Regions from separate parts of the Homo sapiens genome. Here region 2 is linked to region 1. Evidence: fine-mapped expression QTL. Tissue or cell type: whole blood. Region 1 holds a variant in brackets; the other region holds the start of a gene. All regions are shown on one strand. Distances are from middle to middle.

Region 1 (8,108 bases):
AATCAAACCAGATCGTGCTTCCTTCTCCAAATGCAGTCCATAGTTCCCCTCCTCCAGGTCTTAGCTCCCCCAAGTCCTCCTTCTTAGAATTCCTCTTCCACTTTCCAGTCCCATCCTCTCAGTCCATGAAAATGCATCAGCCTTCAAGTCACCTGCAGCCACTTCCCCGGGACAGGCCTCCCCAGCGAGGTTCCCGTGTTCCTGGAGTACCACCATTTGTGTGCTTTTTGTGATACTGTAGTTCGTGTTTTGATGAGGCAGCAAATCCAGATGAAGCTGGATTCAAATCCCCTCTTCCCAGCCTCAGGACCTAGGACAAGTTCCGCAAACCCACAGAGCCTCAGTTTCCTCATTTGCAAGGTGAGGATAACAATGATGACATAGTACCTATCTCACAGGGTTGCCTATGAAGATTAAATGATGTAGTACAACTCCAACACTTCACATAGTGCCTGGGATGGAGTAAGCACTTACTACATGTTAGCCATTATTATAATTGTATGCATGGTACCATGGGAACTTGCAGTCCTAGCTAGCATTTATTTACTGCTTACCATGTGCCCACTGTTTTAAGTATTTTAAGTACTGTTCTAGTGCTTCTTATGTGTTTATTTCATTTTAAACCTCATGGCAATGGTTAAGGTAGATAGTGTTATTATCCCCAATTTGTGGATGAGAAAATTGAGGCACAGAGAGGTTAAGTAAGTTACCCAAGGTCACACAGCTAATAGGTCACCCACTGCCATTGCCATCCTCTCTCCACTTTACTATAGTTATTCACTCATCTTTGCCATTGGGGATCTCGGATGTGTCCTTAATTTTTGCTTTCAAGTGCTTAGCACAGTGCCTGGCACATAAACCCACCAACATACTGATGGAGGTTACCATAGAGTAGCCTGTATGTCCTTCGTCTTTTCTCTCTTGACATTCACCCCCATTGAGGGCAGAGGCTTGGGTCCCCCAATCCCTGCAACTGCTTGTTGCTGAATTGACTGGGTGGGACAGATGGCTCCTTGCAGAGGAAAGATGGGCTTCTTCTCACCCTGGTGCACACAGGCAAGGGCTCTCTACACTCAGTCTTACAATCCAACTCGATTCAAGACGGGAAGCAAACAAGGCTTTCAGCAGCCTCAGGCGAGCAGGGGTGAAATTAGCCGATCGGTGTACAAAGGAGTGTTTAATAATGCTATCACGCTACCCCGTCCTCGTGGAGCCGTTGTGACATTCTGCATTAAAAAAGTGACAACCCTCAATTGCTGCTTGTAACCAAGGCCTGGCATCACGTTGGCTCCCAGCCTCCAGAACACTTGCATTTTCTGGCAACAAATGGCATCCAGGGATCAGGGGAAACTGATGGCTTCATGCAAAAATGTCCTGGCGGACCCTCTAAGCCCTTTGTAGTTCAGCTGCTCTTCTGCTCGTCTGTCAGGAGCATAATTTTCATTTAATATTAAGGAGCTGTTTGTTAAAATAATATTGTCATGGTAACGGGGTAAGGGGAGGGGGTGCTGAAATAGTCTGGTGCTGCCCGAATTGCAGCATATTAATCAAGTACTTGGTACTATTTAATGAGCTTCCCTCTGTGCTTCCTGGCAACAATGAATTTGGAGGACCCAGGCACTTGGGGTTTGCCCCAGTTGTCAGTGTCGAAGATGTGGGCTCTTATGAGTTCCTGGTGCTGTGTTGTGATGGATGGAGGGAGGGAGGGAGGGATCAAGGGAGGGGTGAATGGATGGGATGGATGGATGAGTGAGTAGGTGGGTGGAGGGATGGAGGGATGGGTGGGTGGATGGGTAGGTGGATGGATGGATGGGTGGGTGGAGGGATGGATGGATGAATGGGATGGATGGATGGATGCCAAAACCCAAATTATAGATGTCTGTGTCAGAGCTGTTTTGAAAGCTCTTCTATTTTTCAGTTGCCCTTTTACAGTGGAAATGAATTTTGTCAGAGAATTAGGGAAAAGGGGTCAGGGAAGAAAACAAGGGAAGGCAAAGATTTATCTTGCCTGAAGGGAGAGCTGATGGCAATGATAGGGAGGCAATGTAGAAAAATTCAGAGTCAGGCTGCCTACGTTCCAATCCTGGTTCTGTCCCATCTCACTGTGTAACCACGGGCGGGGGACCCGCACCCCCAGGCAGCTTCTGTTTCCACATGTGTAAAAGGGGGCTCATAGTCATGCTTATCGCAGAGGATTGTTGAGGAGATTAAAGCAGATTATGCTCAGTAAATTCCAACTACCACGTCTACTACTACCGCACCTGCTGTTGCTACCGGCGCTGCTGCTGTTGCTACAAATCTTATGAAAGTCACCACTGTGGGAAGGCCCCAAGGTGCTTTCATGACCCAAAGGTCCAATTGAGTCCTGATCATCTAGTACAGCACCCAACCCCAGGTGTGGTTGACACTACTGCCTGTGTTCTTTCTGAGGTCAGCAAACTTTTTCAGTCAAGGGCCAGACAGTAAATATCTTAGGCTTTGTGGGCCACATGCAACCTCGGTTGCATATTGTTCTTCTTTGTTTTGTTTGTTTTTTACAACCCTTTAAAAATACAATACCATTCTTAGCCCACAGGCCACACAGAGCCAGGCATAGTTAGCTGGTCCCTGCCCTGCTGCCTTCTGAGAAAAGACAAGAGAAAAGGAAGGCAAAGTAAAAGGATATATATATATATATATATATATATATATATATATATATATATATATATATATATATATATATAACAGAGTTTTCCTTCCTCTAAAAGCAGGTTGAAGACAAGCATAAAAAAGAGAAATCTGGATCCAGGAATTTGTTTGACTTTAAAAATAAAAATAAAACCAGCCATGGTGATTCACTATAGCCTTGTCTGCTCATTTTACAGTCAAGGAAAGGGAGGCATACAGAGGTGGGGTGACCTGCCCAAGGTCACGTTGCTAGTAAGGGATAGAGCTGGGACATAAACCCAGGTGGTCTGGCACCTGAGAACGTCCCCACTGCCCCATGCCCTGCTGCTGATGTAGAAAAGTATCTCCATTTTCTTCTATTCTGAATCTCCTGACACCCTCTATCAGCTGACTGTCTAGAAGCTCAGACTTTATGGTCTGGCAGAACTATGATCTACTGTTTACTGGGTCTGTGGATATTATCTTGGAGATAACTGACTTTTAGGTGCCTCTGTTTTCTCAGTGGTAAAATGGGGATGTTTACTGTACCTCTTGATGGTTATGGAGATTCAATGGCCGGGCATGGTGGCTCACTCCTGTAATCCCAGCACTTTGGGAGGCCGAGGTAGGCGGATCACTTGAGGTCAGCAGTTCGAGACCAGCCTGGCCATCGTGGTGAAACCCCATCTCTACTAAAAATACAAAATTAGCTGGGCGTGGTGGTGCATGCCTGTAATCCCAGTTACTCAGGAAGCTGAGGCAGGAGAATTGCTTGAACCCCAGGAGGCGGAAGTTGCAGTAAGCTGAGATTGTGCACTCCAGCTGAGATTGGCACTCCAGTCTGGGTGCCAAGAGCAAAACTCTTGTCAAGGACTTAGCAAATGGTATTGAGTGAGTGCTGGATGAATATTAGAACTGATGATTGTAACAATGCTGTGGTAGGCAGAGTAATGGACCCCCAAAGATGCCTGTGCCCTAATCCCTGGAACCTGTGAATATTTTATGTTAAATGGCAAAGAGGAATGAATATTGCAGATGGAGGTAGTCAGTGATCTCAACGCATGGTTCACAGGCAGTCACAGATTCAACTCCTTGTCTACTCTTTCCCCCTTCTCAGAACTGCACTTGACTAGTCTAAAACAGACAAGATTGCAGATGGAATTAAGGTTGCTAATCATCTGACCTTAGGATAAACAGATTATTCTGGATTATCAGGGTAGGCACAAGGTAATCATAAGAGTCCTTTAAAGATGTAGGAAGCCAATGAACGTCAGAGTCTGAGAAACTGCATGTTCTCATGTTCTGCAGCATAAGAAAAACTCAAGCATCCATTGCTGGCTTTGAAGATGGAAGGGGGCCCTGAGCTAAGCAATTCGGGAGGCCTCTAGAAGCTGGGAAGCAAGAAGATGGATTCTCCCTGAGAGCTTCCAGGAAGGAGTACACTTTGTCAATACTTTGTTTGTCACCTTCAGCTCAGTGAGACCCATTTCGGACTATGACCTCTAGTACCATAAGATAATAAACTGGTGTTAAGCCTAAGTTTGTGGGAATATGTTATAGCAGCCATTAGATCAAATACATTGTTGTCTGCAATATAAACCAGAGAACTCACCAGAGTGGGAGCATCACCTGAAGCAAAGATGGCGTCCTGCACCGGCCGCAGGACGAGGGGCCCTTCTCTGCATGCCCGCTCTGATGCTGCTCAACCAGTGACCATCTACTGAGTGCTGCACAGGGGCCAAGTA[C/T]GGACAGGCACCAGCTCAGGGGCTGCAGGGGAGTGGAGAGAAGTGGAAGCATACAGAGGATACTGCCCAAGCCCCCGGGGGAGATGACACTTCTGCACGTGGGGTTAGCATGCTACAGAGGGGGACCCGCATGTGGAATATCACTTCTGTGGAAATATTCCACTGCCTAGCCTTCACTCTCACATGTGTTCTGGGCCACAAAGGCCAGCTCCAGGTTCAGTGCTCCCCACTGAGTCTGCTCTGAGAATTACCGCCACGGTCACTCCTTTTTCTTAACGACTAGGCTTTTAAGGCAGTGCAGGACTTACATATGGTAATTTGGCTTTGGTTTATTCCCTCTCCCCAATTTCCTCACCACCCATTCTTGGTCCATGTGGTCCCACAATGCCCGGTGGGAGTGCGTGACACAGGCCTGGCCAGTTGGCACCGTGCACCCTTTGGCTCCAGCAGTTGGCTTGGGGATAGACAGGTGACCTGAGTTTCTCAATTCCAGGGCATTTGCTGGGAGCACTGTGGAAGCACAGCCTTCTTTCTACGGGGGTTGCTGAGAAAAGCTGCTGGCTGTCGGTGGGGGAAACCTGTCTGAGTAAATCCCACACAGAAGAAAGCTGAGCCGAGAGATGGAGAGACACGACGCCTGCAGACATTGCTTAGATCCAGCTGGGCGCAAAGCCAGGCCAGCTCAGACTTTTCAATTACACGAACGAACCGCCTTTTTGTTTTACACTTATGTCAATTTGAATTGGATTTCCATCTTGTAACCAAAAGTCTGACTAATATAATCAAATACCAACTTAAGTATTGGTATCTACGAGTTATAGGTGTTTTCATTTCCTTGGCCAAGAAACTTTGAGCTCTGAAATATCACGGAACGGGGGGTTAGGCCAGGGCACTTAGGGCAAAGTTTTAGCTGGACTATAGAGAAGGATGAAGTGGCCTCTCTCACTTCTTTCTTCATCTCTTTGGTTTAGCTTAGCCACACTGAGTCCACTCCTAATAGTGGAGGAAGAGGCAAAGGAAGCCTCTTATGCTATTGAATGGGGCCTGGTTGGAACTTGCCCCTGAATCTGTAGATGGACCAAATGCCTACAACAGGGTTTTCATATCTAGTCCATGAGGGCAAAGTGAATTTCATACGAGTGGCACATGGGGCAGTTGTAGCTCTGTGAACTGATGGAGCTACCGCTTTGGATCCTGCATCTTAAATGCTGATGCTGCCTCAGGGTTCTGTCTTCAGCCCAGCAGTCTTCTATCTCTGAGCTGTCCCTGAGTGAGTTCAGTCACCCCATAGGTTCACCTGTCACCTCCATCAGCTGTCTGTGCATCTTTTTTCTTCGCCTGCAGACCTGAAGGATGCGGCACATTCCCATTGGTCATGGTGATACCTGCCTATGCTGATTTTTCATAGGACAGCAGGACTGCAGGGGCCAGGGTCAGGGTTATAGTGCAGTTGGGTAGGATGATACGCTTTGAAAAGAACCCGGGTGATGCCCATTTCTTCCTCCTTAGGAACACATCTATAGGTTGGTAATCACCAGCCTGTATGTACTATTGATTCCCAATACATCTATCCCTTCCTGAGCTTGTTTCTGTGCTCCAGGCCCATGTTGGACATCTCTAGGATGATAAACACTAATCCTAAAATCAGTTTCAATGCTAGTACTAATGTAATGGAAACTCACACTTAGGAGCACTCCCTCTGTACCAGACATAGTTTTTTTTTTTTTTTTTTTGCCCTGAGAAAGGAATTTATTTATTATATGTAAAGGGTTTATATATATATATATATACTTTAAGTTCTAGGGTACATGTGCACAACGTGCAGGTTTGTTACATATGTATACATGTGCCATATTGGTGTGCTGTACCCATTAACTCGTCATTTACATTAGGTATATCTCCTAATGCTATCCCTCCCCCCTCCCCCCACCCCACAACAGGCCCCGGTGTGTGATGTTCCCCTTCCTGTGTCCATGTGCTCTCATTGTTCAATTCCCACCTATGAATGAGAACATGCAGTGTTTGGTTTTTTGTCCTTGCGATAGTTTGCTGAGAATGATGGTTTCCAGCTTCATCCATGTCCCTACAAAGGACATGAACTCATCATTTTTTATGGCTGCTTAGTATTCCATGGTGTATATGTGCCACGTTTTCTTAATCCAGTCTATCATTGATGGACATTTGGGTTGGTTCCAAGTACCAGACATAGTTCTTAACACTGTACATGTGCTGATCCTAAAAGCCTTCTCAGGTAGGTAATAATCACTACACAATCCTCATTATGCAGATAAGGAAACTGAGGCTCAGGAAAGTTAAACGATCTCTCCAAGGTTACACAGCTAGCACTTGGCTGGGCCAGGATGTGAATTGAAGCCACGTGGACTCCTGAGCCTACCTGTTAACTGCTACTCCATGCTGCTCCCCGTCCTGCCCGCTCCACCGGTTCATCAAATGCAACGCTTCCAGAGCCTTCAACACCACCTGCCACTTTTTCTGCTTTTGTCCACTACTTGGTTAACAAGATCAGTCTCTTAGATTCTCAAGCCAGGAACCTGAGGCTCACTCTGGACCTGTCCTTTCTCACTTTCTATCTTCACATGCAGTCCATTCTTTCTCTGAATTGGTGCTCTGGAGTGAGTTCCCCACTCCATTTCTGCTGTGACTGCTCAGTTGAGAGGGTCACTCCTTCTCTCTGGGGCCATCGGAACAGCCACCATCTCCTCACTGCTTCCTTGTCTTTGACTTCTCCTACCTGCAGTGCCATCTGCACTCTGACCAGTTCATCTTTCTCTTTCTTTTTTTTTTTTTTTTTTTTTTTTTTTTGAGACAGAGACTTGCTCTGTCACCCAGGCTGGAGTGCAGTGGTACGATCTTGGCTCACTGCAACCTCTGCTTCCTGAGTTCAAGCAATTCTCATGTCTCAGCCTCTCAAGTAGCTGGGATTACAGGCACCTGTCACTACGCCCAGCTATTTTTTTTTTATTTTTAATTTTTAGTGGAGATGGGGTTTCACCTTGTTGGCCAGGCTGGTCTTGAACTCCTGACCTCAGATGATCCACCCCCCTTGGCCTCCCAAAGTGCTGGGATTACAGGCGTGAGCTACCGTGCCTGGCACCAGCTCACCTTTCTAAGCCCAAGGTTGCATCATATCACTCCCTTGGTTAAAAACCTCTGAAAGCCGCTCATTGCTCCCTGCAAACAGCTCCATCCTGAGCACGGCACCTGAGAGCCTCTGCAGTCTGCCTCATTGACCTTGCCCATCTCAATTGCCATGTGCTCCCCCATGAGGCTCTACCTGCTCCAGCAACCTCAGACTCCCCAAAGCCTCCAAATGTCCAAGCTTTGTCCACCTCTGCCACCTCTGCCCAGGTTTCCCCTCCTTCAGGGTCTAATTGAAAGCCTCCCTGAACCCACAGGCAGAATGAAAGACTTTGAATCTGTGGGTAGGAAACTTACCATCTTGCTGAGGTGAATCCAGTAATCAATGACATACTGACTTCTGTGTTCATTTACTTATTAATTTTGTTTTTACTAACACTTTTACTCTGTGGTGGACACTACCCCAAGCACCTTCCACAGACTCATTTAGTCATCCTAACTACCCTATGAGGGAACCCATTTTATAGATGAGGAAGGCACAGCACATGGAAGTTAGATAACTCATCCAGAATCACAGAACTAGCAAAGGTGGAGCTGAGATTCTAACTGAGGAGC
Region 2 (8,108 bases), 93 kb after region 1:
CATTTCCATACATCTGGTTATGCGCTCTGCATTGCAACAGCAGAGTGTGTGTGTTCTGGGGGCTGCCACTCCGCTTACTAGCTGTTTGGACTTGGGCAAGTTAGCTAACTTACCTGGGCTTGTGCCTCCTCATCTAGAAAAAGGAGAGAATGAGAGTACTTACATCAGAGTTGTCATGAAGACAAAATAGTCTAGTCATAAGCACTTGGGATAGTGCCTGGCATACAAAAATGCTTAATGGCTATGGGTTCTTATTAGTATAATGAACATTATAGTTGCTGAATGAATAAATAAATCAACACACAGTTGCTAAATAAATGAATAAAGGAATAAAATCCAGGTAAATTCTGAAGTTCGGACCTCAGGACAGTGGCTACTGTTCCCTCTTTTCTGCTGGACCTGACCCTTTACTTTTTTATTCTAACTGTGACGTCGTGTATCTGAATGCTGCTACAATGGACTGGTTAAGGCTATGAAGTTAGGCCTGGATTTGCTTTTTGCTGTGTCGCTCAGGCAAGTTTCTTCACCTCTTGGAGCCTCTGTTTCCTCAACCATAAACGGAGGATAATAGTAGTACTTAGCTCACAGGATTGTGGTGAGAATTAAATGATAAAGCACGTAAAATATACAGCATTGTGCCTCACACACCATAACAGTGTTAGAAACTGTTATCAAACATTGCCATGATTATTTTTGATAAGTGTACAGCATCCCACCAAATCACATGGTCCTGATGTGGATGAGAAACGCCGGGTGGGGCCACCTTTCAGCATGTCAAGATACACTGCACTTACATCACAGGAATACCCTTTCTTCAGTGCCAACAAACAGTGGTGTTTTCCCCCTTCAAATGGACATTAGTTGAGATAGCTGATGTGCCCCAGAATCTTGGTTTCTTGCATTTTCCCCTGAAGCACAATCTTCAGGTGCATCCTTTAGCTGACAGCAAACCTGGCTAGAAGGAAAGGTACAAGTGCGCAAGAGAACAATCGCGGAGCAGAGCATTTAAACAGCGATGATATTTCCACACATCACCAGTCCAATTATTGTCAGTGACACATTTCAGCCTTACTTGTAGATTTTTTCCCTTCTGGCCTTAAAAGAAGCTGTGTATACAGCTTTACATAACTTTCCCTTTAAACTTAAACCTTTATGGTAGTCCCATTCAACCACTTGACAGCTCCATTAATCTATTTTTACTATTAAACATGCCATTTTACAAGATATTTATTCCACTTGGTCGTCATCCAAACGCTTTTTGACATTACTGCCCTGGGAGTGAACTGCTTAAACTCGCTGCCCTCATAAACAGAAAATCACCTTTTGACTCAAATCTTGAAGAGCTCTCAGAACCTCACCCCCTTCACTTCTACAGGCATTAATTTCTGCCATATATAAAGGAGAGAGTGAGTAAGTGTGTGTGTGTGTGGTTTTAAGAGGGTAATTGTGGGAGGTCTGGGCAATTCAAGAAGTGCTGGGGGAAGGAATCCTCTCCTCTAACTCCATTCTGCTCATCGGGGCCTGCCTGAGACCTGGAGATCTGGTAACTTAACAGAGAGAAAGTGATCAGAGAGCAGGTTGGGGAAGAACTCCAGGGCCTAAAAGGCAGTGTCCCAGGGGGCCAAGCTGAGCAACCACTCTTTAAAAGGGGAGGGGTCGAGGGAAAGTCCTTATTCATCGACTTCTCTCCTTCTCCACGCCCCAGACAAACAAAAGGCCACCGCGAAACAGTTGAAGGTAGAGACCTACTGGCTTTGAAGACTATCAATCAGGTGGAAACCTGAACAAATCACAATTTGGCTTCCTCATCAAGTTTTCTCCCCAGCCTGACAAACCCTCCTCCGCCGCCGCCTCCACCTCCTCCTCCGCCTCCCAGGCTCAGCACAGCTACGAGGCCAAAGGGACCGTCCTGTGATGCCTGCTGGTTTCCAACTTTCCGCTCATCTTCGTCTCCGCAGCCTCCTGCAAAGCGGCTGGGAAAAGGGCAAGTTTGCAAAGCCGAGGATACAAGTCCTGGGGAAGCCACAAAGAAGCTGCAACACCAACAAAGATTAACCTCTTGTGGGGCAGACGAAAAGCGCCAGCTGCCGTTCAGGGGGGCGAACGTGGGCTCGGGCTGGCAGAGGCTCCGGCCAGCTGGCAGCGGACAGCAGGGCCGGGGGTCCCGCGGCCGCCCTCGGCCCCCCGCCCCGCGCGGACTCCCCCTGCACCTGAGCGGGGGTGAGGACAGCGCCGCGCTCCGGCCCTGCCCCCGCCAGGTAGCTCGGCTGCCGCCCGCGCTGCGCGCCCGCTGCCTGCAGCCGCCGGGAGCGACGAGAGCAGAGGCAGCCTCGGCCCACGGCGTCATGCTTCCTGCCACCACATTACGGCGAATCGTCACCGGGAGAGGGGAGCGAGGGGAGAGGGGGAGGGAGGGGAGCAGACACACGCAGCCCCCCGCCTGCCAAAACGCGCGGAGACGGGGCCACGTCCCGGTGGAGTCCCCGCGGGACCTGCCCCGTTTGCACAAAGCGCCGCAGTTTGGCCAAGAAGGGAGGGAGACGGCCACGAAATAAATAAATAAAAACAGTCGGGTCTACGTAACGCCCTGTCGAAAGCGGACGCCATATTTTTTTGTGGCTTATGTCGACATAGGGAAACGTAGACATGTTTTTCCTCCTCCTCCTCCTCCTCCTCGCTCTGGCTCCCATTTATCCAAACTTGTAATCAAAACTCTTAAAAAAAAAATCTTCTTCCCTCTCTGTATCCGCTCATTTCCTCCCACCCGCAAAAAGAGCCTGCACACCCCCCCCCTTCCGTACCCCCCTTCCAATCACAAACCCGGCCAAGTCCCATTAACAACACATTTTCGGGAGCCGCGGCGGCGACGGCGGCGGTGGGAAAGTTGGGCTGGAGTGGCCGGCGCCCGGCGTGCGGGGTTTGGGGCCGGCGGCGCCGGCTGGGGGGCTCCGCGCCGAGGCGAAGTTTCTTACCTGCGCTGGGGCTGTGAACGCGGGGACCCGGGCTGGGAACGCGGAGACGCGGCACGGGCGTTCCAAAATGGAACTCTGCTGGCTCCCCCCACCCACTCCCCACTCCCCACCGGGCGCCCGGCTCGGGCTCCGTGGGAAAGAGGGGGAAAGCCAGCCTGCCAGCCAGACAGACAGACAGAAAAAGCCCCCGTACGGAGAACGATGGCCAAAATTTTTAAAAGAAAAAAAAAAAGGAAAAAAAAAGGGAAAAAAAATGCCTCGATCAGTGGGGAATCTACGCCAAAACCCACATGATCTGTAACGTCAGCATGCGTATTTGCATACGATACCACCACCCGAGCTGCCACCCGGGCTCGGGTTCCGCAGAAAGTTACAAAGTGAAATTCAGCCCCCTCCGGAGACACCGGCGAAATGTCATTTTTCAGGCAGGAGCTGGGGGGGAGGCTAGCCCTAAAGGCGCTGGTTACTGGCCAAGGTAGGGGGGCAGTAAATTAACTTAAAAGTCTGAGCCCAGTAACGGACTCGGTGGAATTTCTGCGAGAAGAGGAGGGGGAGGCGCGAGCGAGATCATTGAATATTAAGCACGACCCCGCGCGGCGGCCGCGGCCAAACCGTCTCCGTGCAATACCCATTTTCTTTATGAAAAGTTCAAGGTGTCACTGATGAGCTCAACAAACTGTTGATCTTGACCACGTGGAGTGGCGGACCGTGGGACCGAAGGGCGCGCTTGCAGGCCCGGCTCTGGCGGTACCCGGGCCCCGGGACCCTTTGCGTGGGACTGTGCGCGGGTGGGGCCACCACGCACCCTGGGCGCTGCCTGCGCCTTGGCCCGGCTTCAGGCTCAGGAAAATAATAATAACGATTTTAAAACTATGTTGAGCGAGACACATTTTACTCCCGGAATGATAATGAGAAGGCTCGGCGTAGGGAGGGGAAGAAGGAGCCCCCCACTTATATAACGACTTGAAGTTATATCACTTTTGCTTGGGGAGATTCCGGGATTTCCGCCCGCGCCAGGTCTGAGGCTGGTTAAAGATCTTCAAACTTTTTTCCCTTAAGAGCCAATAAACAAACAGACGCCCCAGGGGCCGACTTAAACTCTGGTAGAGCCCGAGTTCGCTGGAATTCTCAGATTCGAAGAAATGCACACGCCTGCGGTGCTCGCAGAGAAGTCCCTCGGAAGCTAGGCGGGTCGCTTTCGCAACTGGGACTCCAATGTTCCCAGTGGGAGCGGAGCTCTCACCGCGGCAGCCCCCAGGTTCCCCTAGGCGCCTTAGAGCAAAGGTGGCGGGGGATCGCGCTGCCCTTCGCCCGCCGGCTCGGAACCATGAACTTGTATTCCGGGCGCCGCGCTCCTGCCACAGTGCTCGGCTAAAGAGCTCTAAGGAATTCGGGATCTGGGTACACTTCGGGATCTCAGGCGGCAACCTGTCTGCGCCGCGCATTCCTGCCCAGATGTACCTTGTTTCCCCCTGGGCTGGCCTGTGGACTCTTGGGCAGCTCCCGGGCGGGGACGAGGGGATGCGGTCTGGGGGCTAGTTTAGAAGCTTCGAGCGCAGCGAGAAAACAAAGGGAGCCTGGGGCTGGGAGGCTCTGCGGAGTCCCCGCCCGCCCTGCAGATTAGCAGGCGCGTCGCGTCGGGGCTTCCCGGGCAGCTCTGCTCTGGGGAATTAGAACGAACTCTAGCGGCCGTTTGCAACTCGGCTGTGGGCGCGAGGGCATCAACAGGTGGCCGTGTGCAGCGGAGAGGCCAATGGCGAGGACCCGGACTGGGGTGAGGACGGCTGGCCTTGGGGCTGACTGGGTGGCGGATGCGCTGGGTGACCTTTTGGCTTTTTCATTTCCGAGGCCGGGGAGAAGGAAGTAGCTAAAAGGTTTTTGTAAGTTCTGCCCTAGGGCTCTAATTTCTGACATACCCCTTGACTCCCCAGAAATCCTTTGCAACAAAAATTAAAACAGCTCATATGCAAAACTTTCTTAATGGCCTGCACCTGTTTGTTCGGTTATTGCTGATGTAGGGTCTGTTTGTTTGCATTTTAACCGCCCATAAAACAAGATTCTATCCTGGGAAGGAGTCTCTTGCGTGATGCTCGCGGACCTGAAAGGCGACCTGGAGGGGCTCTTACAGGATTCTGTTAACTTCTTGATGACTGTAATCCAGCTTGGGCCACATCTTTCTCAGCCTCATTTGGTACCGGCTAAGAACCTAATTTACTTGCCATCAACATCAGAATTTACCGCTGCCTGATCTCCTCCCAACCTCTGCCTCACCCAGGGTGAACCAAAATTGTAAAAAGAAAAGAAAAAAATATGGGACCCTCCCCCCATTCCCCCGCCTTGTCCCGTCCCGCCGGCCACACCAACTTCAACATTTTTACATCGCTTACCTTATTATGCCCCTTGCAGGCTATTCCACGCCCTGCCCCCCCCCCCTTTAAAATAAGTCTAGTTCTGTCTGTTTCCATGGAAATTACCCAAACCTTAACGAAGCTATTCCTATTTTGAGGCTGCACCTCCTCTGGATGATCAATCACTTAGGAGGGTTTTCTATAAGCCAAGTTTCCCTTGCTGCCACCTCACTGCCACCTGCTTCTGGCTGGGTGACAGATTGTATGTAGGGTGGAATGGGCCAGGTGGGAGGGAAGCCAGGTAACCCTCTAAACAGTCTGCTGGGTTCTCATATCTTCAGAGCACTTGGATCTCATGGACACTAGCAAGGATGAGGGGCTTCTGATGTGTTGCAGTGTTTTAAAATTGTTCAGAGTTTAGCATGGACTGAACTTGCACCATATAAAGAGAAAACAATGAGGAATAAGACAAAGGTGGCTTTTGCTTTATGTGGTATGATCCCTGTTTGCTTGAAGTATACTCATGGAGTAGACAGACCGTTATCTGACAGTATTTAGGAGCTTCAGAATCAATAATGTTGGACAAGTAAATGTTCAGCCAGGAAGTAACGTATGCCACTTTCACTTACAACTCATTGGTCAGAACTAAACACAAAGTTAACTGTAAAGATCCATGGAAGTATTGTGTGCCTGGAAATGGAGAGAATGGGAAAGATTTGCACTAATATGATAGCACTAAGGACTATCATAAATAATAATAGCAGTTCACAATTATTGATCATTTACCATGTGCTGAGCCTTTTATATGTATCATCTCATTGAATCATCACAAAAATCTATATTTTGTCTTTATTTTACCGATATAGAAACTGAGACTTAAAGAGCTTAAGTACTGTACCTTGCTCGACATCACACAGATGCTAAGTAATGGAGTTGGAATTTAAGCTTAATTTTACCTGCTTCCCAGAGAATAGACTTTTAAAACACTGTCCTCAACCACCTTTGGACTTAATTGGTCCCCTGTTGTTGGGCATTGGGTAGTTTCAATTTTATTCCAATGAACAACCTTGTGTCAGATCTTTTGAATCATCTGCGATTACTTCCTTAGGATAAATTCCTAGGTACATATTTGCTTAGTTGAAATATACACACATTTCAAGAATAAAAACCTTTTGCAAAAAGTGAAAGCTTTAGGAGGTGTGGTAGTCTTCTAAGATGGCTTTTTTCAATCCTTTCCTTCCTTTTTTGAAAAATACATCACCATTAAGAGGTGGAGTTTACTTCCCCTCCCTTGGAATCTGGACTGGTCCTGTGATTGCTTTGGATGCAATGAAAGTGATATTCTGAGACATCTAAATCCAAGTCTTAAGAGACTGGCAGTTTCTGTTTCCTTCCTTTTAGGGTCCTGCTGCCATGCTGTGAGAAGCCGAAGTTTCATGGAGAGGCCACATGGAGTGAAAACAAAGGTGATAGGGACAATAGCTCCACCTGAGATCCTGATTAATACACAGACTTTAGCCATCTTGGATGCTCCAGCCTAATCGATCTCCCACTTGACTCTAGTCTCACCTGACATTATGTAGAGGAAAACCATCCAGCTCCACCTAGTCAACCCACAGAATAATGAGATGATCATAAGACTGTAGTTGTTTAACATTATTAACTTTTGGGGTGGTTTATTACACAGTGATAGATAAATAAAATGGGAGTTATTATCCGTGTCTTTATTTGCACATATATCTGAATATTTCAGATCTACTTCCCCCTGAACTCTGCAGGGTATAGGTAGCATTGTGAAATATTGGAGGCCAGGACAAGGGGTAGAGAGGCCTCTTGGTCCATGATGCCTGAGCTGGCCCACTCTCCAAATCAAAGCTTTTCTTGATTTTAGTTGTTGCTCATGAAGGATCCCGCGCCACAGGTCCCAGATCCTAAGCAAATAAGAACTCATTTATCAAGCATAGATACTCAGTAGGTACTGGAGTTAAGTTCCTGTTTGGTGTTGCCAAAAACAGAGGTTTCCATTATTTAAGGATATACACTGTGATAGGGAGTGCAAGTGCCCACCATGTACATGGCTGCCTGGGAGGTGCTTCTTATACTTTATGTAATTTAATCTTTTAAACAACCTTCTGAATAGTATATTGTCTCCTTAATTTGTGGGAGAAAACAAGTTTATAGAAGCTTATGAATTATCCATGGGCCATACAGCTGATAAGTTAGAAGCAGGTCTTGAGCCCACATTTGATTGATTACAAATCCTGCCTGCTTCCCACTATACTTGTGACTTGCAAATTAACTCATGTGCAAACCCCCTTCACCAATTTTGTCCCAGTAGCAAAGGAACTACCTATAGTATTTTTAATTTAACATTTTATTTGGCCAGGGTCATGGCTCACACCTGCAATCCCAGCACTTTGGGAGGCTGAGGCAGGTGGATCATTTGAGGTCAGGAGTTTGAGACCAGCCTGGCCAACATGGTGAAACCCCATCTCTACTAAAAACAAAAAAAAATTAGCCAGGTGTGGTGGTGAGTGCCTGTAATCCCAGCTACTCAGGAGGCTGAGGCAGGAGAATCGCTTGAACCGGGGAGGCAGAGGTTACAGTGAGCCAAGATTGTACCACTTCCAGCCTGGTGACAAAGCTAGACTCTGTCTCAAAAAAAAAAAAAAAAAAAAAAAAAAAGAAAACATTTTATTTACATTGATTCACATTTTTAAAACTTAAATGCACTTATTTCATACTAATACTAAAGAAGCCTTTTGTCACAATAGAAACAAGAAAATCC

Evidence for each region. PIP is the estimated chance that this variant, and not a neighbour inherited with it, causes the effect.
Region 2: it holds the start of ZHX2, and the variant in region 1 is fine-mapped to the expression of ZHX2 in whole blood (TOPMed, PIP above 0.99).

Annotation. Positions count from the first base shown.
Region 1 is chr8:122,869,748-122,877,855 of GRCh38, reverse strand. All of the region lies in intron 2 of ZHX2 (zinc fingers and homeoboxes 2), which reads right to left. Among named protein-coding and RNA genes, the nearest start is that of ZHX2, 92 kb to the right of the region's middle. The variant C/T (reference allele first, on the strand shown) is at 4,395.
Region 2 is chr8:122,776,811-122,784,918 of GRCh38, reverse strand. ZHX2 (zinc fingers and homeoboxes 2) reads right to left here and starts at 3,264. Exons shown (of 4, transcript NM_014943.5): 1 at 2,973-3,264. It overlaps ZHX2-AS1 (ZHX2 antisense RNA 2), which reads left to right and starts at 3,315. Exons shown (of 2, transcript XR_007061082.1): 1 at 3,315-4,746; 2 at 6,722-7,035. RefSeq lists silencers at 1,273-1,352, 2,133-2,262, 2,483-2,552 and enhancers at 1,413-1,947, 2,603-2,652, 3,820-4,319, 4,320-4,821.